Linked DNA regions of Homo sapiens: region 1 is linked to region 2. A link means that fine-mapping ties the variant in region 2 to the plasma level of a protein whose gene starts in the linked region. Region 2 holds a variant in brackets. A gene starts in the other region. All regions are shown on their reverse strands. Region 1 holds the start of SAA4 (serum amyloid A4, constitutive). Region 2 overlaps GCKR (glucokinase regulator).

What was found. A credible set is the group of variants that fine-mapping cannot tell apart. PIP is the chance, under the fine-mapping model, that this variant and not a neighbour inherited with it causes the effect. The UK Biobank Pharma Proteomics Project read protein levels with antibody pairs (Olink). The fine-mapping took linkage between variants from a reference panel, not from the people measured, so its PIPs are less certain.
Region 1: SAA4 starts here. The variant in region 2 is the best candidate, but not a certain one, in a credible set for the plasma level of the SAA4 protein (UK Biobank, PIP 0.51).

Annotation. Positions count from the first base shown.
Region 1 is chr11:18,227,250-18,240,091 of GRCh38, reverse strand. It overlaps SAA4 (serum amyloid A4, constitutive), which reads left to right and starts at 3,290. Exons shown (of 4, transcript NM_006512.4): 1 at 3,290-3,375; 2 at 4,162-4,256; 3 at 7,559-7,697; 4 at 8,428-8,737. The coding sequence starts at 4,166. The coding sequence ends at 8,590. SAA2-SAA4 (SAA2-SAA4 readthrough) reads left to right here. Exons shown (of 6, transcript NM_001199744.2): 4 at 4,162-4,256; 5 at 7,559-7,697; 6 at 8,428-8,737. The coding sequence ends at 8,590. It also overlaps a transcript of SAA2 not described here. RefSeq lists a silencer at 10,662-10,711.
Region 2 is chr2:27,521,227-27,534,088 of GRCh38, reverse strand. It overlaps GCKR (glucokinase regulator), which reads right to left. Exons shown (of 19, transcript NM_001486.4): 18 at 11,495-11,629; 19 at 10,405-10,820. The coding sequence ends at 10,650. Among named protein-coding and RNA genes, the nearest start is that of SPATA31H1, 9.7 kb to the left of the region's middle. The variant AT/T (reference allele first, on the strand shown) is at 7,963.

The DNA of each region.
Region 1 (12,842 bases), not on the chromosome of region 2:
GAATAGTATATAATCACCGGTACCCCATTGGGTTATTGGGAAATCACCCTCCTGTGATTTTCCCCCTTGCATGTTAAAATACGTGTATATGACTTTTTCTCCTATTAATCTGCCTTTGTCAGTTTATTTTCAGCTGAACTGTAGAGAGTGAAGGAAGAAGCCTTTTTTCTTCACTCCTACATGACCCAGGCATTGATCCAGGCAATGAAGATTCAGTGTAAATAACCACCACTAACAAGACCATGGCCTTTGGAACCTGTGCTAAGAGGCATGGATGAGCTCCCTCAGCATGTGGATGGAGACTGAAGAGAGGTCTGAAGGCTCAGTGTGGTGTCTCCATTCTCTAAGAAGTTTGGAGGAGAAGCTGGATACAGCAAAACAGACTGAGAAGGAGCAGCTGTTGGGAAAGGAGGAAAACTAGGAAAGCATGGTGTTCCAGAATCCCTGATGGAGATATTGATTAGTAGTATCAGATTCTGCTTAGCAGTTGAGGAGTTCACCTTTGGCTTAAGCAACATGGAGTCATTGACTATCTCGTGAAGGTGGTTGCAGGAGAAGGTCTGGAGAACTAAATGGAGCAGTGATAAGAGAGAATGGGAGATGGTATGATAGGACTCCTGGACACCCCAGACATCAATCAAAACACCACAGACAAGAAGGTGTGGATACAAAAACTAGCAGTTAGAAGAAATAATAGAAAATGAACTCCAACTACTTCTGAAAAAAAAGTAATGAGGGCAATTAATACATTGAAGAAAGCCTCAATAAGTACAACAGTGTAGTACTGACTTATATATAGAAAAAACCTGATCAGTGGAACCAAATCCTCAGAATTAGACATAAGTGCATATGAGAATTTTGTATGTGATAAAGGTTGTATGTTAACGTATTAAGTAAAAGACGGACTATTCAACAAATGGGATTGGTACAACTGGGTGACCATCTAAAATAACATCATGTTGAAAACATACTGTATATATTACGGTAGGACAAATTCCAAATATGCTAAATATTTATAAACAAATAAGGAAAATGATAATAATAATATTAACATTATCTGGTGAATCCATGGAAAATTCTTTTATAGCCCAAAGTAGGGAAAGCTGCAACAACAAGGATGGAACTGGAGGTCATTATGCTAAGTGAAATCATTCAGGAACAGAAAGACAAACATCACATGTTCTCACTTATTTGTGGGATCTAAAAATCAAAACAATTGAATTCATGGAGATAGAGAATAGAAGGATGGTTACCAGAGGCTGGGAAGGGTAGTGGGGAGGGGGGGAGTGAGGGGAGGTGAGGATGGTTAATGAGTACCAAAAAAATACTTAGAATGAATAAGAGCTAGTATTTGATAGCACAACGGGGGACTATAGTCAGTAATAATTTAGCTGTACATTGTAAAATAACCAAAAGAGTATAATTGGATTATTTGTAACACAAAGGATAAATGCTTGAGGGGATGGATACCCAATTTTCCATGATGTGATTATTGCGCATTGCATGGCTGTACCAAAATATCTCATGTACCCCATAATTATATACACCTACTATGTACCCACAAAAAATTTTTAAAAAGGAATGAAATAAAAACATTTGAGTTTAAGAAAACCACAAAAAAACAAAGTAGGGAAAGCTCTTCAAATACTATGAAATTGAGAAGACAACTAAAGAAAATATTAATAAAGACAAGAACATAAATAATTTCTTTGGCAGAACATAAGCCATCATAATCAGAAGATAAATAAGCTGGGAAAAATATTTGTAACTCATATCCTAGATAACATACTCATTTTCCCTGTATATAAAAAGTTTCTCTAATGTGATAAATAAAAACACAATAAACCAGTAAAAAATGACTACTTTGATATGAAGGTATGAATTCACAATTCCTAGAAAATAGAAATAGCTCTTAAACATGTGGAAAGATGTGAAACCAAAATCATAATAAGAGAAATGTAAATTAAAATTACTTTGAGTTTTATTTTACTCACAATTTCAAAGACCAAAAAGTTTGAGAGTATACTGTGTGAGAGACAATGTGGAACCAAGTTCTTTCACTCATTTCTGGTGGGAGTAGAGATTGATACAGCCCTCATGGAAGGCAATTTGCAACATATAAAAATTTATAAAATCTAGGGCCAGGGACGTTGGCTCATGCCTGTAATCCTAGCACTTTGGGAAGCCGAGGTGGGCAGATCATTTGAGGTAAGTGGGTCGAGACTAGCCTGGCCAACATGGCGAAATCCCGTCTCTCTTAAAAATAGAAAAATTAGCCTGATGTGGTGGCATGTGCCTATAATCCCAGCTACTCAAGAGGCCGAGGCAGGGGAATCTCTTGAACCCCGGAGGTGGAGGTTGCAGTGAGCTGAGATCATGCCACTGCACTCCAGCCTGGGGGACAGAGTGAGACTCTGTCTCAAACAAACAAACAAAAAATTTATAAAATCTGATACTTTTTCACCATGGAGTTTCTTCTGTAGGAATTTATCCTAGAGATATATTTGTACATGTGCAAGAGACATATGTACAAGGTTAATAAATGCACCATTATTTGTAATATCAAAAGGTTAATAACTGTCAAAACAGCCATTAATATTGTATAAATTATGGTCCATCCATGCAATGGAATACTGTGTAGCTGTAAAAAAAAAAAAAAAAAAAGCAACAAGCCCGACATGGAAAGACTTCCAATAAATAGTAAGTTTAAAAGAAAGTGCAGAATAATACATATTTATATGAAAAAAGAGTTTTTATGCCTCAAAGGCCTTCACCCTTGATCTTCTGGTGTTATTCCTGTCCTTGTATTCTCCCAGAATCATTACCTCATCCCATGAATGGTACAGTCAAGTCTTGCTTGTTCTGTGTCCTTACATTCTTTAGAGAGAAGTCACAAGAGACAAGCAAACATCTCTTTTGCTAATAATATTGATCACTTCCTACAGCATAATATCTATGTGCAATTTTTTGGGAAGACCTCCTACTAAACAGTTAAGAATGGAAAGACACAAAGAGAAGAAAGTGGAGAAAGACCTCTGTCTTCCCACACTGGATTTTGCAAATACAACTCTTCTGTGATACAGGAAACTAAAAAGAGGGAAAAGTGGCAATTAAGAAAAACTGCCAGAAAATAAATACCTTGATGACCCAATTTGGAAAACTACTTCTAGATAAGGAAACACTATTACCCAATATGTTAATTTTTAAAATACCCAAAGAATTGAGCAAAAAGGACTTTGGCAAGGCAGGTTGTTGGATTTAAAACCGTTCTCCCATTAATGCCAAAGCCAGCAGAGGTACCAACTATAGCTCCACGGCCAGAAGATACCAGCAGCTCTGCCTTTACTGAAATTTCATCTGGAGAAAGGTCCACAGGTGAGGTTTCTTCCAAGGAGTAATTTCTCTTATTTGACTCTTTTGAGATCCTTTTCTCACATAATTGTCAAATTTCAATTGGAGAGAAACTGTGTTTTCTACCTCATTACGGGGTCAGTGCTGAGGAGAGTAGGAACTCAGGAAATGCTTCTTGATTGACTTTAGTCTGCTGTATTGGGTGACAAATTGACCACAGACCAAATAACACGTTGGAATCCTCTTATTCTTTCTAGAGATCTGGGCTGAGAATTAAGGGTTTATGCTTCTTCTTAAAACCCGTTTCAATCTTTCATGCAGTTATGATTCTCATACAAACAAATGGAAATGGGGAATTAGTCTTTCAAATTCAGTCCTTTGGCTGGCACAGTGGCTCATGCCTGTAATCCTTTGGGAGGTTGAGGTAGGAAGATTGCTTGAGGCCAGGAGTTCGAGACTAGCCTGGGCCGAACATACATACCAAGACCTTGTCTCTACCAAAAAAAAAAAAAAAAAAATTAGCTGAGTGTGATGGTGCACGTTTGTAGTCCTTAATACTCAGGAGGCTGAGGTGGGAGGATCACTTGAGCCCAGAAGGTCGAGGCTGCAGTAAGCCTTAATCATATCATTGCACTTTAGCCTGGGCAATAGGAAAAAAAAAAGAAAGAAAGAAAGGGAGGAAAGAAAGAAAGGAAGGAGAAAGAAAGAAAAGGAAAAAAAGAAAGAAAAAAAGGAAAGAAATTCAGTCCTCAAAACATAGATCTGTGTTTTTTTTTATGATCCTCTGCCCCTGTCTTTCTTTCTCTTCAGCACAATGAGGCTTTTCACAGGCATTGTTTTCTGCTCCTTGGTCATGGGAGTCACCAGTGAAAGCTGGCGTTCGTTTTTCAAGGAGGCTCTCCAAGGTAAGAACTCTGGAGGATGGAGGGCACATACCCAGGATTCATTCTGAGCAGGGGCCACATACTCACTGGATGTGAGTGCTCCTTAGAGAAGCCACACAGAGGTCAGAGCAGGAGTGTGGTTTTCTGTATCTGTTTCTTCCTCTAGGCTGGTCTGATTTATCACCCTCCCTTGGGGTTTCCAGACGAGAGGTTAAAGATGCTTTGGGCCCAGCCTGTACTCTTGGTGTAGAGTGCAGAAGGATAAAAACTTCCAGGGGGTTATCTCCCACTGCGGAAATTTACAGATGGCAGATTTCTCAGGGCATGATGTTTATTTAGCTCATCCACCTCAGGGAATATACTGAGTTCACAATTATACTCCAAGACTGAGACATGCCTAGCAGAGAGTAGAGAAATCCCATCCTGTACCCAAGCAAATGGCCAATGCTTGGGATGCAGAGCTTATGAAAATTAAGCCCTAACTTCTATCCATAAATAAAAAGAGCAAATTTCTACTGATTAGCCACAGGAGGGCTGAGATACGGCTGGGAAACTGACTTCTGCCATTCTGGATGGGAAACGAATCTTATTGACTAGCTGTTAAAATGGGAAAACTATGTTTGTCAGGTTATGCAATACTTTGAACTTCATGTGTTGTTATTAATTTTGTAGTTGAATTTTTTGTAATTTTTCAATTGAAATTTTATAAATTTTCATTTTTTCTGCATTTTGTGCTTTTAAAAATGATATTCTATAAATAGTTTTTAAAAAGTTTTGGTAGCATGTACTAAGTTTTTCTGCACATAGTAGAGAATATCTTTTCCCTTAGGTCAGTGTATTTCAGAATTTGTTGTATGGTCCACCAGCATTTAAATCGGCCGGTGTTTGTTTTAAAAGTACACTCTGAAGCCTCTTCTCATAGTTACTGAGTCAGAATCTTAGAAGTGAAGTGGGACTAGGAATAGCATTTGAAAAACTCCCCAGGTTACTTTAAGCACAATGCCAATGAGAACAACTGTCTTGGGTTTTTCTGTCACCCAGTGACAGAATCTGTCAGATGCTTGGAGAAAACTCTTGCTAGTAGATCTGGAAAACATAGAATGAACATAAAGCATGCATCAGAGAAAGGACAGTCATGCCATGCCAGAGATAAACTATTTGACAAAATTACAGACACAAAATAATACATGAAGTTAGTGAGAAATATCCCTTAGAACACAGTACCTAAGTAACAATTAAAACTATTTATCACAGCTTTTCTTTTTTCCAAGTGAGTTGGTTTAAAGAACTTGGTAACACGTAAACCACAGCAGAACTCAAAAATATTTATTGATTGAACAACACAGGCACTGATAGACATTTTCTATAGCTCTTCCTGGCTTAGACCTGTTTCAAACATCTATTTTTCCACTAATCTTTTTAAAAACTTTAAAATGATATATAACTTACATATAGTACACAGTATAGCTTGATGAGGTTTTTACACATACAAACATCCATATTACACCATCAGATCAAGATGTCAAACATTTCACACACCCCGGATGGGTCTCTCATGCCCTCTTCCAGTTAACAACCCTCACGAAAGGTAACTCCTATTCTTACCTCTATCATTGTTGATTAGTGTCCCTGTGTTTGATCTTTGAATAAAAGAAATCATACAGAATATGTCTTTTGTATCCGGCTTTGTTTCACTCAACATTACGACATACTAATATACATGACAGCATTTGTCATGTGTATTAATATTTTGTTCTTTTTCATTGCTACATAGTATTCCATTGTATACTGATATCACAATTTATCCTACATTATTGGATAATTAGGCTTTTTAAAGTTTTATGCTATCATGGCTAAACCTGTAATAAACATTGGTGTACATGTACTTTAGTGTACATAAGCCCTCGTTTCTGTTGTGGGTATACACTCAGGAATGGAAATGTAGAGTCATAAGGTATAGTCATGTCAATTTAGCTTTCGTAGATACCAGCAAACAGCTTCCCAAAATTGTACCAATTTACACTTCCATGAACAATTACGAGAGCTGGGCATGATGACTCACACTCGTAATCCCAGCACTTTGGGAGGCTAAGGCAGGAGGATCACTTGAGGCCAGGAGTTTGAGACCAGCCCGAGCAACAAAGTGAGACCCCATCTCTACCAAAAAAAAAAAAAAAATTAGCTGGGTGTGTTATTAGGTGCCTGTAGTCCCAGCTACTCAGGAGACTGAGGTGGGATGATCACTTGAGCCCAGGAGATCAAGGCTGCAGAAAACCATGATCACACCACTGCACTCCAGCCTGGGTGACAGAGGGAGACTGTGACTAAACAAAACAAAAAACAAAACCCAAAACAATTATGAGAGTTCCAGTTGTTCCACATTTTTGCCCACAATTTATATTGTCAGTTTTAAAAATTTTTATCATTCTGTTGGGTGTATAGTGGTATCTTATTGTCACTACTGCCCTTCACTAATAGGAACAGGAATCCAATTTGCATCAAGTATTCCAATATGCTAGGCATTTTATGTATGTTACCTCATTTTATCTTCTCATTTAGTCCACCAGGGAGGTAGGTATGATTCCCCCCAACTGAAGAATGTGGAAACTGACACTTAATTGTCAGGGCAGAGAGTTAAACATTTACATTCATGCCCTTCATGATAAGTCTGATTATCCAGGTCCTATGAAGCTCTCTCAGGTCATTCCACCTCATCACGTACTGCCCATTCCCTCGGCTTTCTTGTGCCATTTATGCCCATAGCAGTCAGATTTATTCAAGTCCTAGTTGTCCTCACTCAGCTGGTAAGGATGTATTTTTCTTATGGGCTATGGTAGATGTGCAGCCCCCTCCTCTTCTCACCAAGTCCCTTGTAATGTCCCTGGATCTTACATCTGTAGTACTATTCTCCATTGTGACATTCCTCACATGAGCATCCCCTCTTTGTACACAGTACACACAGACCCATGTAAGATGTAGCCCAGGGCATGACAACTGCCAACCAATTCAATTCAATGTAATCCATGGAAAAGCATTCCTCACATGAGCGTCCCCTCTTTGTACACAGCACACACAGACCCATGTAAGATGTAGCCCAGGGCATGACAACTGCCAACCAATACAATTCAATGTAATCCATGGAAAAGCACCTTCCTTACAGTTACTCAGGGAAGCTGTTCACAGGAAGTAATGTTTATCTCCACGTATGATTTCAAAGGATTATTTTGTCAAGGGCCAAAATCTGGAAATCAGTGGAAAATGTTCATTTCTACATTTCTCCAGTATGTCACTGGGTTCATTTTTGTCATTTTTTTTCTTTCCAGGGGTTGGGGACATGGGCAGAGCCTATTGGGACATAATGATATCCAATCACCAAAATTCAAACAGATATCTCTATGCTCGGGGAAACTATGATGCTGCCCAAAGAGGACCTGGGGGTGTCTGGGCTGCTAAACTCATCAGGTAACACAGATTCCCGGGGACTCCAGTGAGAGGCCAGCAGTGCCTATCTGTCTTGAGAGTCAGGAGAACCTGTGGCTCTTTCCCCTCCTCCACATACTCCTGGGGTCTGGGTGGCTGGCAGAGCCAGAGCAAGGCTGGTGAAGACATGTCTCCTTTCACCCACAAGGGAAAGTAAGAACTGAGGAGAGGTCTTGAAAGCACACTGTTGCAGGGGCTGGGTGCAGGGGCTCACACCTGTAATTCCAACTCTTTGGGAGGACAAGGTGGGAGGATCTCTTGGGCCCAGGGATTTAAGAGCAGCCTAGGCAACATAGCAAGACTCTTATCTCTACAGAAAATAAAAGAAATTAGCCAGGCGTGGTGGCATGCACCGTAGTCCCAGCTACTCAGGAGGCTGAAGTGGGAGATCCCTTGAACCCAGGAGGTCGAGGCTGCAGTGACCCATGATTGAGCCACTGCACTCCAGCCTGGGCAACAGAATGAGACCCTGTCTCAAAAAAAAAAAAAAAAAAAAAAAAGGGAAAGCACTCTGTTGCAGAGCGCAAGTATCAGTAGACTTAGGCCTTTGCCCAAGAAGATTGATAGTTTTCTTCCCCTTTCCTTGAGTTTTCCAGCCTCCTCTCAGTCATTACTTGGGTGGGAGAAGAGGAGGGAGTTAGCAGGTGGAGCTGTCTCAGGTGAGCAGGTGAGTCAAGAGATTAATCTCCTGTCTCCTTTCTTTGGGTTGCAGCCGTTCCAGGGTCTATCTTCAGGGATTAATAGACTGCTATTTATTTGGAAACAGCAGCACTGTATTGGAGGACTCGAAGTCCAACGAGAAAGCTGAGGAATGGGGCCGGAGTGGCAAAGACCCCGACCGCTTCAGACCTGACGGCCTGCCTAAGAAATACTGAGCTTCCTGCTCCTCTGCTCTCAGGGAAACTGGGCTGTGAGCCACACACTTCTCCCCCCAGACAGGGACACAGGGTCACTGAGCTTTGTGTCCCCAGGAACTGGTATAGGGCACCTAGAGGTGTTCAATAAATGTTTGTCAAATTGAATTTGTTGGTGGAAACTGGGAACATTGAGGCAGACTTTCTGGGAAGAATGGTCATCTGAGGCCATATGGAAGATAAACAGCACCATGGCAGATGAGCCTGTGACTGAGGGGGACCAAGGACTCCCAGCTGGCCTGTAACTATGCAGGCTCCTCACATGACCCAAGCCAAGCTTCTCTGGTCATTTTCGGCCCCAGCTTCCCCTCCTGAGTAAGCCTAAGCCGGCAAAGCACTGACCATCATCCTGGGCTTCTGAGTGGCTGGAGTCATGGCTCTGGCACAGCCCTGGGCAGTCTTCCATCAGTCTCCTCTGTATCTCAGATTGGACTTCTACCCCCAAATTCCCACTTCTTCTTCAGGGCCTCACAGTTTATTTTGTTGCAGTTTCCAGGCCTCTCTGTATACAGACTTTGTACTGCCCAATTCATTGCATCCTGTCCACTCTCTGCCTCTAGGCCTTGTCCCCCAGTGAGCTCTTTCCTTATGGAGAAGGTACATTGTGGGCTGAGTGTGGTGGCTTATGCCTGTAATCCTAGCCTTTTGGGAAGCTGAGGCAGGAGGATCGCTTGAGCCCAGGAGTTCAAGACCAGCTAGGCAACATAGTGAAACCTCATCTTTACTAAAAACCAAAAAAATTAGCCAGACATGATGGCATGTGCCTGTATTCCCAGCTACTTGGGAGGCTGAGGCTAGAGTACTGCTTGAGCCCAGGAGGTCAAGGCTGTAGTAAGCTATGATCACTCCATTGTACTCCAGCTTGTATGACAGAGTGAGACCCTGTCTCAATAAAAACAAGGTACATTGCTTAGAGAAGCCTAATCCTAGGAGTTCTATCCTAGAAACTGCTATCTTGGACTCTGGTTTCTTTCTTTCTTTCTTTTTTTTTTTTTTTTTTTGAGACAGAGTCTTTCTCTGTTGCCCAAGCTGGAGTGCAGTGGCACGATCTCAGCTCACTGCAAACTCTGCCTCCTGGGTTCAAGCAATTATCACACCTCAGCCTCTGGAGTAGCTGGGACCACAGGTGCGCACCACCATGCCCGGCTAATTTTTGTGTTTTTAGTAGAGATGGGGTTTCGCCATGTTGGCCAGGCTGGTGTCAAACTCCTGGCCTCAAATGATCTGCTGCCTTGGCCTCCCAAAGTGCTGGGATTACAGGCCTGAGCCCCTCTGCCTGGCCGACTCTGATTTATCTCTTATCAACACCCGTGCCTCCCCTGACTCAATTTTTAATTTGTCCCGCTCATTTTACCTAAGGAATGACTCTCCTGTTGGTTTTCCTTATCTTTATTCTCTTTTTTTTTTTTTTTTTTTTTTTTTTTTTTGACAAAATCTCCCTTTGTCAAACAAGCTGGAGTGCAATGGGGTGATCTCGGGTTACTCAACCTCCGCCTCCCGGGTTCAGGGGATTTTTTCACCTCACCCTTCCGAGCAGCTGGGATTACAGGCATGGGCCACCACACCTGGCTAATTTTTGGGTTTTTAATAAAAAAGGGGGTTCACCATGTTGGCCGGGCTGGGCTAACTCATGGGCTCAACTGGCCAAGGGTCTGAAAATGTAGGCCTGAACCACTGCACCTGGCCGGCATTTCGTTGGCTTTTAGTTCAAATAAAATTCTACTTCCTGTCCTAAAGGGGAAGTGAGATATGTAGATAGACAACACAGTTTAGTAAGAGCCTCAACAGAAGCACACACTGGTGGCAATCCAAATTTTGCTGGGGTATGGGAAGTCAGCAAATAGTAATTAGAATAGCTGCCATTTTTAATTGCAATTGCAAGACTGTGCCCTACAGTTTAAATACTTTATCTGATTTAAGCTGCAGAGAAGGCTTTGATGTTCTCAGCTGGATAAACTGAGGTTTAGAGAGGTTTGTGTTTAGGACCTTCTCCAAGGTCACATATGTAACAGGTGCAGAGCCAGGACTGCAGGCTGGTTTGTCTGACTTCAGAACCTGTGATACACTGAACAAGGCCAAGAGGTTCAGCAGTGGAGACCCCTTTCTTCTTCGTGGATCTCCAGCACTTGGTTTAAATGGCCAGGTGAGCCCTTATGCTTGGGGAAATGTCTGACTTGTTTGAGAACAGGCACCATATCTTGTTCATCACTGCATGCTTAATGCCTAGCAGGGTCCAGGCACTCAGTAGTTGCTTTCTGAATTAGATTATCCCATTGAAAACCTACACTTCAACCCACATTACTCTTCACTCTTGCACATTGTCTTCTTCCTCTTAATAAGTCAAACTTGTTGAAAGTATTGCCCATCTACACACCTTCTGATTCTTCACTTCTGATCATATGTTAACCCACTCCAGCCTGGTTTCTGTCCCCACAACTTCAGCAAAATACCTTTGTCACCACTGACCTCCATGCTGCCAAAAACAATGAACATCTCTCTTTTCTCATATCAGTAGCTCTGTGAGCAACATTCAACGCAGTTGCCTTCCCCTTCCTTCCTGATATATTTGGTCTCTTGGCTTCATAATACTACTCTTTCCTTCATCAGCTCTAAGTAGCATAATATTACCCTCTACCTCAATTCTCCTTTATTTCCTTAGCTGGGACTTTTTTTATCTCCCCAAACTCTGTGTTCTTCAGACTTGGCTCTGGGCCCCCATTCTTTATTTCTCTATGCTCTCTTTCACAAGTCTAAATAGTACTTATATGTGGATGGCTTTTAAAATTATATCTCCCCCTGCAAAACTCATTTCTGAGCTCCATGCTTGTACATCCAACTGGCTACTTGACATATCTACATAGCTGGCTTCCAGATATCTCAAACTTAACGTGTCCCAAAATGAACTCGGGTTTTCCCGTCAGAACTCTTCACACTCCAGGTTTCTCCATTTCAGTTAATGACATGGCCATTCTCTCTGTTCCTCACACCAGTTAGGGGAATGTGTTGATGCTTCCCTTCACTTTACCCCCACATTCAATCCGCTGGATGTGAACTTCCAAAGTTCATCTCTAATCCATTGACTTCCTCTCATTTACACCCTCATGCTCCTGGCTACATCATTTCTCATCTGGGGTACTGCGGTAGCCATCTAACTAGTCTCCCCATTTTATTTTATTTTATTTTATTTTATTTATTTTATTTTTTTTGAGATGAAGTCTCGCCCTGTTGCCAGGCTTGAGTGCAGTGGCACAATCTCGGCTCACTGCAACCTCCGCCTCCTGGGTTCTAGCGATTCTTGTGCCTCAGCCTCCTAAGTAGCTGGGACTACAGGCGCCTGCCACCACGCCCAGCTAATTTTTGTACTTTTAGTAAAGACGGGGTTTCACCATGTGGGCCAGGATGGTCTCAGTCTCCTGACCTCGTGATCCACTGCCTCGGCCTCCCAAAGTGCTGGGATTACAGGCGTGAGCCACCGCGGCTGGCCGATTATTTAGATTATTAAAGGTCACTGCAGTCCCGTTTCAAGCTCCAATATCATGTCTGTTTTAAAGCATCCTGCTCCGCTATTGTTGGCTAGATTGTAGTGGGAGTGCTGGGAGGGGTGACGGTTAGAGACTCTTTCCCTGCTCCTCTGGCACCAGCACCTTAGAGAAGGGTGGGGATAGTCTAGTTCTGAGATGTCTTTCTATCACACTTCTCAGCCTCAGGATTGGGAAAGGGGAGAGATGTAAAGGAGGGGGTAATCATTTTGGCCTCACCCTGGTTTGATGTGCTTCTAACTGATGCTGATATATATTCTCTACTGATGTGGAGGTCTCTACTGAGATGGTGGTCAGGGTTCTTCCTGATGTGAAATCCAGCTCCCTCAGATATGGGGGTGGAACTGCCCAGAGAAGAACAGCTGTATCTACGACTGGTCCTGAAAGTGGTCCTTGTTCCAAGCCCCCTCTCTGGGTAAGGTTTACCTTACCTGGCCCAGCCACTGCTTTTTCCCTAACCTCAGTGGTTTTCTCAATAGACCCACCAGAATGGCTGAGGATCTCTTCTCTTCCTGCCCAGGGGTGCAGAGATCAGAGTTGGGTAAGAAGTCACCCCATCTTCTTTTTAGGCATATTCCACCAATACCTCTTCAAGCTCTGCTGGCCTGGGCTACTCCATCCTTCAGAAATCCCCAGATGAGAAGCAGGCACCAGAATGTTCACACATGGTGAGC
Region 2 (12,862 bases):
TATGTTTCCTCCCAAGTACTACTTCAGCTGCATGTCACCAGTTGTGATATGTAGAATTTTTGTTATCATTTAGTTCCAACTATTTTCTAGTTCCCATATTGATTTCTTTGATCCATGGATTATTTAGAAATTCATGTTTAAATTTCTACATATATGGGGATTCTACATATATGGTTAGATAACTAGAAAAGTTATCTAACCAAGTCACATTGTAATCAGAATACATACTTCAAATCATTTCAATCCGTTGAAATGTTTGAGATTTTATCCCAGTCTATGGTCAATTATAAAAATTCTATGTGTGTTTTAAAATGAGATGTATTCCACAAGTGATAAAAACAGTCTCTATATGTCCGTTTGGTCAATTTTGCTAGTCTTTATGTTCAAATCTATACTCCTAAGCTTTTGTCTGATTATCCATCAATTACTAAGACAGGCATGTAGAATCACCTATTAATACAGTTGTGTATTTGTTTATATCTCCTTTGAGAGCTGTAGATTTTTGCTTTATATATTTTTAATCATTCTTTAAAATCACAATACATTCCTGGTAAATTAAATATTTTAACACTATGAAGTCCCTGTTCATTTCTAGTAATACTTTTGGCCTTAAGTTATTTTGTCTGATATTAATATTGCTGTACGGTAGATGGACCTGATAGCATAACTTAAGCATACCCCTAAGAATGACCCTGTATGGCAGATACATCTGACAGTATCAACTTAACTTAAGCATAGCCTGAGAATGACCCTGTGTTCTAAGAAGAATGTGTGTTTGGATTTCCAAGCTAAGGAATCCAGAAGTGGCCAATCTGGAGATTTATTTATTCCTTATGTATAATGAACATCTGAACCCCCGGCATGGCCTGTGACATGCAGGACATACAGGGGACTGAAGCCTTTTGTTTTGAGTTAAATGAAAGTTGCCAGGAGGAGGTTGCTAGGAGGAGGGTGCTAAGTGAAAATACTATATAAACTGCATGCTTTTTATAAGCAGTTTGGTTCTCCTGTTTAGCCCACCACCAGTGGACTGCCCTGTATGTAATTTCCCTCAATAAGCCCAATGTCTTCTTTGCTAGCTCCAGGTCTCTTCTCTAGCCTCTGCAACATGATGCTATCCCTACTGAAGTCAATAGGGTTCTGGCATGACAATTGCCATAGCTATTTTCTTTTGGTTGGTATTTCACAGTATATCTTTTCCCATTCTTTTACTATCAACCTTTCTATATGCCTTTGCTTTAATACTGGCTACAAAATAAACAAAATCCATATATATGCTGTTTGCAAGAGACACATCTATAACAAAAAAAGTGTTAATTGGGGCATGTATTTCATTTACCTTTAATGTAATTACCAAAGTATTTGGGCCATGATCTGTCCTCTTAGTACTTCCTGTTTTGTCCTATATTTTAAGTTTCTTTTTCTCTCCTTTTTTTTTTTTTTTTTTTTTTGAGACAGAGTCTCACTCTGTTGCCCACTTTGGAGTGCAGTGGTGTGATCTTGGCTCACTGCAACCTCCGCCTCCCAGGTTCAAGCGATTCTCCTTTCTCAGCCTCCAAAGTAGCTGGGTCTACAGATGTATGCTACCACGCCCAGCTAATTTTTATATTTTTAGTAGAGACAGTATTTCGCCATCTTGGCCAGGCTGGTTTCAAACTCCTGACCTCAGGTGATCCACCTGCCTCAGCCTCCCAAAGTGCTGGGATTACATGTGAGCCACCTGGCGCAGTCTTTTTCTCTCTTTTCTTGCCTTTCAATTAGATGACTATTTTTAATTACTTCATTTTCCCCCTTTACTAATTAGAAATTATACTGTTTTTATTCTTTTAGTGCAAGGCTTGGCAAACTATGGCCTGTGGGCCAAATCCAGCATGCTGCCTGTTTTTGCAAATGAAGATTTATTGGAACACAGCCACACTCATTTTACATATTGTCTACGGCTGTTTTCAAGCTTGCAACAGCAGAGTTGAACAGTAATGACTGAGACCACAGGGCCTGCAAAGACTAAAATATTTACTATCTATCTCTACAGAAAAAGTTTGCCAACCCTGTTTTTAGCAGATACCTTTTAAAATGCAATATGCACACAGCTTATCAAAGCCTTAAATTAATAAAAACTTTTATCTTCTTTATGGAAAAATCAAGGCCCTTAGAATATTTTAACTCAATTTATCCCTTCCCAAATATATGTTATTGTAGTTAGGAATTTTAACTTTATATATTTATTTTTAATTTTTTAAAAAATTTAATTTTTAGTGTTTGTGGGTACATAATATATATTATGAAATACATGAGATATTTGTATTATGATACTGTATTCCATAATACATGTTTTTATTTTTAGATCATAATACATATTCCATAACACAATTATGATACTATGATTAGTATTAGTCCATTCTTGCATTGCTATAAAGAAATATCTGAGACTGGGTAATTTATGAAGAAAAGAAATTTAACTGGCTCACTGTTCTGCAGGCTGTACAGGAAGCACAGCAGCTGCTGGGGAGGCCTCAGGAAACTTACACTCATGGCAGAAGGGGAAAGGGAAGCAGGCTCATTTCACACAGCCGAAGCAGAAGAAATAGAGAATGAGGTCCCACACACTTGTAAACAACCAGCTCTTTTGAGAAGTCATTCACTATACCAAGGGGTATAGTACTAAACCATTCATGAGCACTCCACCCCCATGATCCAATCACCTCCCACCAGGCCCCATCCCCAACACTGGGGATTACAATCCAACATGAGATTTGGGTGAGGACACAGATCCAAACCATATCACATGCAGTGCAGAATAATCACATCATGGAAAATTGTGTATTCATCCCCTCAAGCATTTATCCTCTGTGTTACAAAGAATCCAATTACACTCTTAATTATTTTTAAATGTACAATTAACTGATTATTGACTTTAGTCTCCCTGTTGTGCTATTAAATACTGTGCCTTATTCTTTTTTTTTTTTTTTTTTTTGAGACAGGATACTGCTCTGTCACCTAAGCTGGAGTGCAGTGATGCAATCATGGCTCACTGCAGCCTCAACTTCCCAGGCTGAAGGGATCCTCCTGCTTCAGCCTCCTTAGTAGCTGGGACTACAGGCATATACCACCATGCTTAGCTAATTTTTCTTTTATTTTTTGTAGAGATGGGCTCTCGCTATGTTAACCATGCTGGTCTTGAACTCCTGGCTCAAATTATCCTCCCGCCTCAGCCTCCAAAAGTGCTGGGATTACATGCATTTGCCACTGTGCCCACCCTTATTCATTCTATTTTTTTTGGTACCCATTAACAATTCCCACCTCCCCACCACTACCCCTCCACTACCCTTCTCAGCCTCTGGTAACCATCCTTCTATTCTCTATCTCCATAAGTTCAATTATTTGTTTGTTTGTTTGTTTGAGACGGAGTCTTGCTCTGTCACCCAGGCTGCTGTGCAATGGCACGATATCGGCTTACTGCAACCTCTGCCTCCCAGGTTCAAGCCATTCTCCTGCCTCAGCCTCCCAAGTAGCTGAGATTATAGGTGCCTGCCACCACACCCAGCTGATTTTTGTATTTTTAGTAGAGAAGGGGTTTTGCCATGTTGCCCAGGCTGGTCTTGAACTCCTAACCTCAGGTGATCCACCTGCCTCAGCCTCCCAAAGTGCTGGGATTACAGGTGAGCCACCATGCTCAGCCTGTTTTGATTTTTAGATCCCACAAATAAGTGAGAACATGCAACATTTGTCTTTCTGTGCCTGGTTTATTTCACTTAACATAATAAGTGAAATAAGTTCTATCCATGTTGTTGCAAATGACAGAATCTTATTCTTTTTATGGATGAATAGTACTCCATTGTGTATATGTACCACATTTTCTTTATCCATTCATCTGTTGATGGACACTTAGGTTGCTTCCAAATTTTGGCTATTGTGAACAGTGCTGCAACAAACATGGGAGTGCAGATATCTCTTTAATATACTGATTTCCTTTCTTTTGTCTTTATATCCAGCAGTGGTATTGTTCTCCGTAATGGTTGTACTAATTTACATTCCAACAGTATACAAGTGTTCCCTTTTCTACACATTCTCTCCAGCATTTGTTGCTGCTTGTCTTTTGGATAAAAGCCATTTTAATTGGAGTGAGATAATATCTCATTGTAGTTTTGACTTGCATTTCTCTGATGATCAGTGATGTTGAGTACTTTTTCATATGATTGGTTGCCATTTGCATGTCTTCTTTTGAGAAATGTCTATTCAAATCTTTTTTTTTCTTTTTCTTTTTTTTTCTTTTTTTTTTTTTTTTGAGACGGAGTCTCGCTGTGTAGCCCAGGCTGGAGTGCAATGGTGCAATCTCAGCTCTCTGTAACCTCCACCTGCTGGGTCCCAGTTCAAGCAATTCTCCTGCTTTAGCCTCCCTAGTAGCTGGGATTACAGGCACGTGCCACCATGCCCAGCTAATTTTTGTATTTTTAGTAGAGACAGGGTTTCACCATGTTGGCCAGGCTGGTCTCGAACTCCTGACCTCGTGATTCGCCCGCCTTGGCCTCCCAAAGTGCTGGGATTACAGGCATGAGCCACCGCACCTGGCCGGCTATTCACATCTTTTGCCAATTTTTAAATTGGATTATTAGATTTCTTCCTATAGAGCTGAGCTCCATATATATATATATACATATATATAGTTATTAATCCCTTGTCATATGGGTAGTTGTAAAAATTTTCTCCTATCCTGTGGATTGTCTCTTCACTTTGTTGATTATTTCCTTTGCTGTGCAAAAGCTTTTTAACTTAATGTGATCCCATTTTTCCATTTTTGCTTTGGTTGCCTGTGCTCGTAGAGAATTACTCAAGAAACTTTTGCCCAGGGTAATGTCCTAGAGAGTTTCTCCCAGTGTTTTCTGATAGTAGTTTCATAGTTTGAGATTTAAGTCTCTAATCCATTTTGATTTGATTTTTGTATATGGCAAGAGATACGGGTCTAGTTTCATTCTTCTGCATATGGATATACTACCTGAGACTGGGTAATTTATGAATAAAGGAGGTTTAATTGACTCACAGTTTCACAGGCTTAACAGGAAACATGACTGGGAGGCCTTAGGAAACCTACAATCATGGTGGAAGGTGAAGCGGAAGCCAACATCTTCTTCACATAGCAGCAGGAAAGAGAGAGAGCACAAAGGGGAGAGTGCCACACACTTTTAAACCATAAGATCTTGTGAGAACTCACTCACTATCATGAAAACAGAATGGGGGAACTCCACCCCCATGATCCAGTCACCTCCCACCCGGCCCCTCCCACAACATTGGGAATTATAATTCAACATGAGATTTGGGTGGCGACACAGAACCAAACCATATCAGAGATCCAATTTTCCCAGCATCATTTATTATAGAAACTGTCTTTTCCCCAATGTATGTTCTTGGTACCTTTGTCAAAAACGAGTTCACTGCAGGTGTGTGAATTTGTTTTTGAGTTCTCTATTCGGTTACATTGGTCTATGTATCTGTTTTTATGCCAGTACCATGCTGTTTTCGTTACTATAACTCTGTAATGTAATTTGAAGTTAGGTAATGGATTCCTCTAGTTTTGTTCTTTTTGCTCAGGATAGCTTTGGTTATTCTAGGTCTTTTGTGGTTCCATATAAATTTTAGGATGTTTTTGCTATCTCTGTGAAGAATGTCATTGATATTTTGATAGAGATTGCATTGAAGCTGTAGATTGCTTTGGGTACTACGGACATTTTAACATTGATTCTTCCAATCCATGATTATAGAATATCTTTCCATTTTTCTGTGCCATCTTCAATTTCTCTCATCAGTGTTTTATAGCTTTCATTGTAGAGATCTTGACAGGTGCAGTGGCTCAAGCCTGTAATCCCAACACTTTGGGAGGCTGAGGCAGGTGGATCACAAGGTCAGGAGTTCAAGACCAGCCTGACCAACATGGTGAAACCCCGTCTCTACTAAAAAAAAAAACAAAAAAACAAAAAAACAAAAAATTAGCCAGGCATGGTGGTGTGCACCTATAATCCCAGCTACTCAGGAGGCTGAGGCAGAAGAAACGACTGGACCCGGGAGGCGGAGGTTACAGTGAGCCGAGATCACACCACTGCACTCCAGCCTGGGCAACAGAGCAAGACTCTGTCTCAAAAAAAAAAAAAAATCACATCTCCTTCAAATAAGGATAATTTGACTTCTTCCTTTCCAGTTTGGATGCCCTTTATTTCTTTGTCTTGTCCGATTGCTCTAGCTAGGACTTCCAGTACTGTGTTGAATATCAGTGGTGAAAGTGGGGATCTTTGTCACGTTCCAGATCTAAGAGGAAAGGCTTTCAGTTTAAATTTATTTTTTGAATAAACTTTTTATTTTTGAAAAATTTCAGGTTTACAGAAAAGTTACAAAGATAGTACAGCAAATTCCCATATATATTTCACCTAGTTTCACCTAACATTAACATCTTACATAAGTTTGGTACGTTTGTCAAAACTATGAGATTAACATTGGTATATTTACTATTAACTAAACTCCAGATTTCATGCAGTTTCACCAGTTTTGCCACTAAAGTCCTTTATCTTTCCAGGATCCAACCGAGGGTAGCACCCTGTAGGTGAGTCATGCTTCCTGAGTCTCTTCTGGTCTATGACAGTTTCTCAGTCTTTTCTTGTTTTCCATGACTGAAAATTTTCAGGTATTTTGTAATATGAGCAGGTATTTTATAATATGTCCCTAAAGCTGGGTTACTGTGATGTTTTCTTTATGCTTAGACTGAGGTTATGTGTTTGGGGGAAGAATACCACAGAGGTGACATGCCTTTCTCATGATATCATATCAGGAGGTGCGTGATACCTGCTGGTGATGCCCATCTTGATTACTTGATTAGGGTAGTGCTTGCCTGGTTTCTCCACCGTAAAACCCATTCCCTTTCCCATACTCTGTTTTTTTGTAAGTGAGCCCCTAAATCTAACCCACATTGGAGGAGAGGTGGTGTGGGATGATTAAGCTCCATTTCCTAAAGGAGTGTGTGTGTGTGTGTGTGTGTGTGTGTGCGCGCGCGTGTGTGTTTATTTAGAATTCTTCTTTAGGAAAAATTGGTACTTTCCCCCACTTTATTTATTCAATCATTTGCTTATAACGGTACGAATTCACGCGTACTCATGTATTTTTTTAAACCAAGTGTTTTTTTTAATTTTATTTATTTATTTGAGACAGGGTCTCATTCTGTCACCCAGGCTGGAGTGCAGTGGCATGATGACAGCTCACTGCAGCCTCAACCTCCTGGGCTTAAGAAATCGATCCTCCCACCTCGCTTCCCAAGTAGCTGGGACTGCTGTCGCCTACCACCATGACCAGCTTGTTACTTATTTTGTTGCTCAAATTGTTCCCACTTTAGGCACTAGGAGCTCTTTCACATTGGCTCTTGTATCCCTTTGACATATTGTCATCCTTGTGGAGGTTTTGAGCAATTCTTTACTTTCTGTGACTACAAGATGCTCCAGGGATCCTCTTCCTGTCTTTTTCCTTGTCTTTTCCACAGCACCCCAGTTACTAGCTTAAAAATGACCCACTTCTCTCTCCCAGGATGGGAGCATTTTGCATCACCTAGATATAGTACCTGTCCTCTCAACCCTAGGATTTGACTCACCTGTCCAATTGGGTCCAACCCTAAGTTTCCATTGGATCTTAGGCATTTTGCTGTATTTGTAGAGCCCATCCCTGGAACCAGATGGAGACCCCTCTGTCTCCTACCTGGTCCCAACATCCTCTTTCAACGTTATAGCTTATCTAATATTCAAGAGCTGGCTCCAGGCTGTGTAACATTCAAAACAATCTGAATGTTAGACCGGACGAATGTTGGCCAGGTGTGGTGGTTCACACACACGATCCCAGCACTTTGGGTGGCTAAAGCAGTAAGATCACTGGAGGCCAGGAATCAAGACCAGCCTGAGCAACATAGCAGGGCCCCATCTCTACAAAAAAAAA[AT/T]TAAAAATGAGCCAGGTGTGGTGGTGCACATTTGTAGTCCTAGCTACTCGGGAGGCTGAGGCAGGAAGATTGCTTGAGCCAAGGAGTTCGAGGCTGCAGTGAGCTATGACCGCACCACTGCACTGCAGCCTGGACAACATAGTGAGACACTTTCCTTAAAAAAAAAAAAAAAGAGAGAGAGACCATCTAAATTATGAAAAGAATAGCTAGCTAGATTTTGGAGACGAGTTCATGAGTTCCATATATATATATGGATATATATTATATATTCCATATATATGTGTGTGTGTGTGTGTGTGTGTGTGTGTGTGTGTGTGTGTGTGTATAACGTCAGGCTTAGAGTATGTGCGATATCCAAATATATTTTGTCCCACCCCCTCTTGTTTTTTTTTTCTGTTTTAGAGCCAGGGTCTTGTAATGTGGCCCAGCCTGGCCTTGAACTCCTGGACTCAAGTGATCCTCCCATCTCAGCCTCTCAAGTAGCTAGGATGGCACACCTAGCCCCCTTTTGCTTTTGATCCAGCAAATATATGTGCTGGGAAATTGTTTTCTTCATCTTCCACAATCTAATCCAGTCTTCAGGCCCAGGCCCTTTAGTCCTTTCTACATAATTACTGCCTTGTATTAATAATGGATTATTCTCTTGCTGTTTTTGCCCTCAGATGTTTACTTTCTCCAAATAACTGCAAAAGTTGTCACCCTATCATTTGTGTCTGGATAGTTCTAAAAAAATCTTTGAACTTCTTTAGCTCTGCCTGGAGCACAAATCCCATTGACAATGACCAGATTCTCTGCTATCAGATCCATATCCCAGTGTGAATCTTCAAACCTTCTTGCGTTTTCTTTGGCTGTTCCTTTACCCCACCCCAGCCTCCTTTCTTCCAAAACTTTCCTTGACTCTTGGCCTACCCTGTAATTTCAGCAGCTCTCTGTACTTATCCCGCTGTTTAATCCACTTCAACTCTGTCTTGTATTCTAATTGCTATGTGCTTGTGAGTTTCTAGGGGGTAGGCATCAGATCTTAGTCATCTTCATCTCTGCCACAATGCCAGAGTGTGTCTAGCTTCTAATGTCCCCCAAGGCTATCCCACAATATTCATAATGTCCCACAATAATGTCCCACAATATTCATAATACCTGAATATTGTGTCCAACTACATAAGAATTGAATTCACTTGATGTCTTCATGCCATCCACGTACTTGGCAACTAAAAGAACTCAGGGCTTCTAGAGTTCTTCTGCATCCAGCCCTGGAGAAATCTAACCCTGTGCCCTATCCCCTCCAAATGTGGGAGGGGAGCTACTGTACAGTTGGCATCATCAACAGGATCAAGGGGTGCTCTGCCCTTTGGGGTCCCAGAATGCTAGGTATCTTCTCAGACTTGACACTGTTCATGACACCATGCTGAGAGATGAACTGACCCGATGAAAGAACGTGGTAGAGAGTTGTGGGTGAAGAGAAGCAGAGGGACTTTGCAGGAGCCTTTCCTAACTTTAGCCATCTTGAATTTGGGAGAGGTGTTTGTGGAAGATGAAAGGGGTGGTACTCAGGAAGCATCGTGAGAGTAGTGGCTGGGGAAAGGGGGATTACTGATCATCCAAGGCATCAGTGTGAAGATGTGGAACAGGAAAACAGAGCTCACATAGAGGCTGCAGGCCCTCAGATGCACAGAGGGGCCTATGGCCACCTTAAAAAGGTTGATTACTCTATCCTCATAAAACCAAAATCTGGCTCCTTTGCAGTCACCCTCCTGCCTAAAAGTTCCAGGGACCTTTCCAGAGAGTTTCATCCCCAGAGGAATGTTCCTGAGTATCTATTACCTGGATATTTCTCAGGCACAAGGAGGAACCAGCTCTCTACTGTCAGGGCCATATATCACAGGCCCTAAAGAGCTGGCATGAATCTAGGATGAACAAGGGTGTCTTTGATTTGTCAAAACATGGGGTAGCTGATGTCTAAAATGTACAGCCCGGGGTTTCTAGTGTTTGTTGGGTCCCACCACCAAGGGCTTTCAGCACCTCCAGAGTTCCTTATGTTCCTCTTACAAACACGGGGCAGGGGATGTGACCCTCATTTCATGGTCTAATGCGTGGATGTAGCAGTCATTCTAGATCTTGTCATGTCTGATTAAGACTGCCCTTTTTCTGGGTTTCCTATGTTAGGTACACAACTTCTTCCCTCTTCCCCTGGAATTATCTAAAAGTTCCCACCTCTCATTGTGTGTCTGTGTGGGATTGGAGTGTGTGTGCACGCATGCACACGTGGCTGCATGTTGGTAATGAAAATATAGGGATGCCAGTATAAGGCTTGTGTTAGGGACCAATGAAATGGAGTTGGGGACAGAATTAAAGAAACAAATCTGCTGTTAAGACCAACCCATGCCACCCATCCTATCCCACCTCTGATCTACTGTTTGATTTACTGACTTTGAAAGGTTAACTTTCCAAAATAAGACATTTCATTTTATTTCTGAAATCAGAATAAGTCGGTGAGAGTAGAAACCACTAGGTCGAGAGCAAGAACTCTCCCCCAAAGTGGAGAGAATATTTCTCCCTACCCTGGGCTGCGGATGCCCTGGAAACGGGGCTTCTTCCTCCCACATGTTCTGCTGGCACAAGTCCCCTTGGGCGGGCTGGGCTGAAGTGGGCAGGGTTGGGCCCCTTTCACCCACCCAGAAACATGGGTTCACTGAACGTCAGGCTCTAGGATCTCGAGGGGGTCCGCAGTGCGCTTCTGACCTGGCCCAGCAAGAGCACTCCTGACAGCCTCACAGACAGAAGGAGCTGCAGCCAGGTGTGCCTGAGCCTCAGTGATCGAGCACCGGAATAGGAGGCTCAGCAAGGCGATGGGTATCACCTGTGGGGAAGAGGCAGTGGGCACTGAAGCCTGAGGGAATGAGGTCATCAGAGAAAGAACCCCGGAGGAAGGTCGGGCGCAGTGGCTCACGCCTGTAATCCCAGCACTTTGGGAGGCCGAGGTGGGCAGATCACTTAAGTTCAGGAGTTTGAGACAAGCCTGGCCAATATGGCGAAACCCCATCTCTACTAAAAATACAAAAATTAGCCAGGCATTGGTGGCTGGCACCTGTAATCCCAGCTATTTGGGAGGCTGAAGCAAGAGAATCTCTTGAACCCGGGGGCAGAGGTTGCAGTGAGCCGAGATCGCGCCACTGCACTCCAGCAGCCTGGGTGACAGAGCAAGACTCTCTCTCAAAAAAAAAAAAAAAACAGAACCCTGGAGGAGTTAAAGCATTTGATACAGGAATCAGGAGCCACTAGGTTAGATGCAAATAGGATGTTATTAAGATTAGAAGGTGGTAACAAGGTGGATTAAGAGCAGAAAGAAACCTTCACTTTGACCAGGAAAACTCCTATTCATCCTTCAAAACCCAGTCCAAAGACCCCATGAATGTGGAGGTCCTTGTGAGCAGAGTGCCACTGAGCTTTGTAAACCCAGTGCCGAACAAACTTCCTGACACACTGAAAGTACTCAAAAAGTATTTGTTGAATGACCAGCAGTGGGCAGGATACCTGTTCCTTCTCATGTGCAACCTGGACATGGCAGGAGATGGGAGCAGCCCGAATATCATCTGACAGTGGCTGGGGAAAGTGGATCGCTCGGAGGAGGCTCTCGATGCATCGAGCCTTGGACTGTCCAGAGAACCGCTAAGGAAGAAGTGGTAAGATCAGTGTCAGGCTAAAGGCCAGAGGAACTAAGAATGGAGTCAAGGGAGAAGAATAAACTATGAGAGTGAGAGGCTGGGATCCCGAGGCCTGGCTATAGAGGCTGTAGATGATTTGTCCATGTTGGCAATCCTAAATTGTAATTCCCAGGTGTAAAGAAAAACTAGGTTAAAGGGGTTGGTGGTGGGCTTGACTGGCTGGGTTAAACTGGAGGATTAATGGCAAATTGCTCAAATTTGCATGTGTGTCCCACCAATCCTGTAGGTTGGTAATCTGGACTCCCTCTCTCTAGTTTCCTCTGTAACCAAATCCATCTTGCACACTAATGTAAGACTGTTCATCTGCAAACACTGCTTCCATTTTGTCACTACCCTCCTCTCTGTCTAGCTCAGCATTGTCCAGTAGAAATATAATGCAAGGCTGGGCACAGTGGGTCACACCTGTAATCCCAGCACTTTGGGAGGTCAAAACAGGAGGATTACTTGAGCCCAGGAGTTCGAGACCAGCCTAGGCAACACAGCAAGACCCCATCTCTACAAAAAATAAAACAAATTAGCTGGGCATGGTGGCACCTGCCTATCGTCCCAGCTACTCAGGAGGCTGAGGTGGGAGGATTGCCTGAGCTCAGGAGTTTGAGGCTGTAGTGAGCCGGATGGTGCCAATGCACTGCCCTCCAGCCTGGGTAACAGCGTGAGACCCTGTCTCTAAAAAAAATAAAAATAAAGAAAAAAATATAATGCAAACCACATATGTAAGTTTAAGTTTTCAGTAGCTGCATTAAAAAAAGAAATAGGTGAAATTGGCCAGGCACAGCAGCTCACACCTGTAATCCCAGCACTTTGAGAGGCTGAGGCAGGTGGATCACAAGGTCAGGAGTTGGAGACCAGCCTGGCCAATATGGTGAAATCCCGTCTCTACTAAAAATACAAAAAAAAAAAAAAAAATTAGCTGGGTGTGGTGGCGCATGCCTGTAATCCCAGCTACTCAGGAGGCTGAGGCAGGAGGATCACTTGAACCCAGGAGGTGGAGGTTGCAGTGAGCCGAGATCATGCCACTGCACTCCAGCCTGGGTGACAGAGTGAGACTCCATCTCAAAAAAAAAAAAAATGTGATTTCACCTATTTCTCCTGACCTTGTGATCTGCCCGCTTTGGCCTCCCAAAGTGCTGGGATTACAGGTGTAAGCCACCACACCTGGCCTGAAATCAATTTTAAT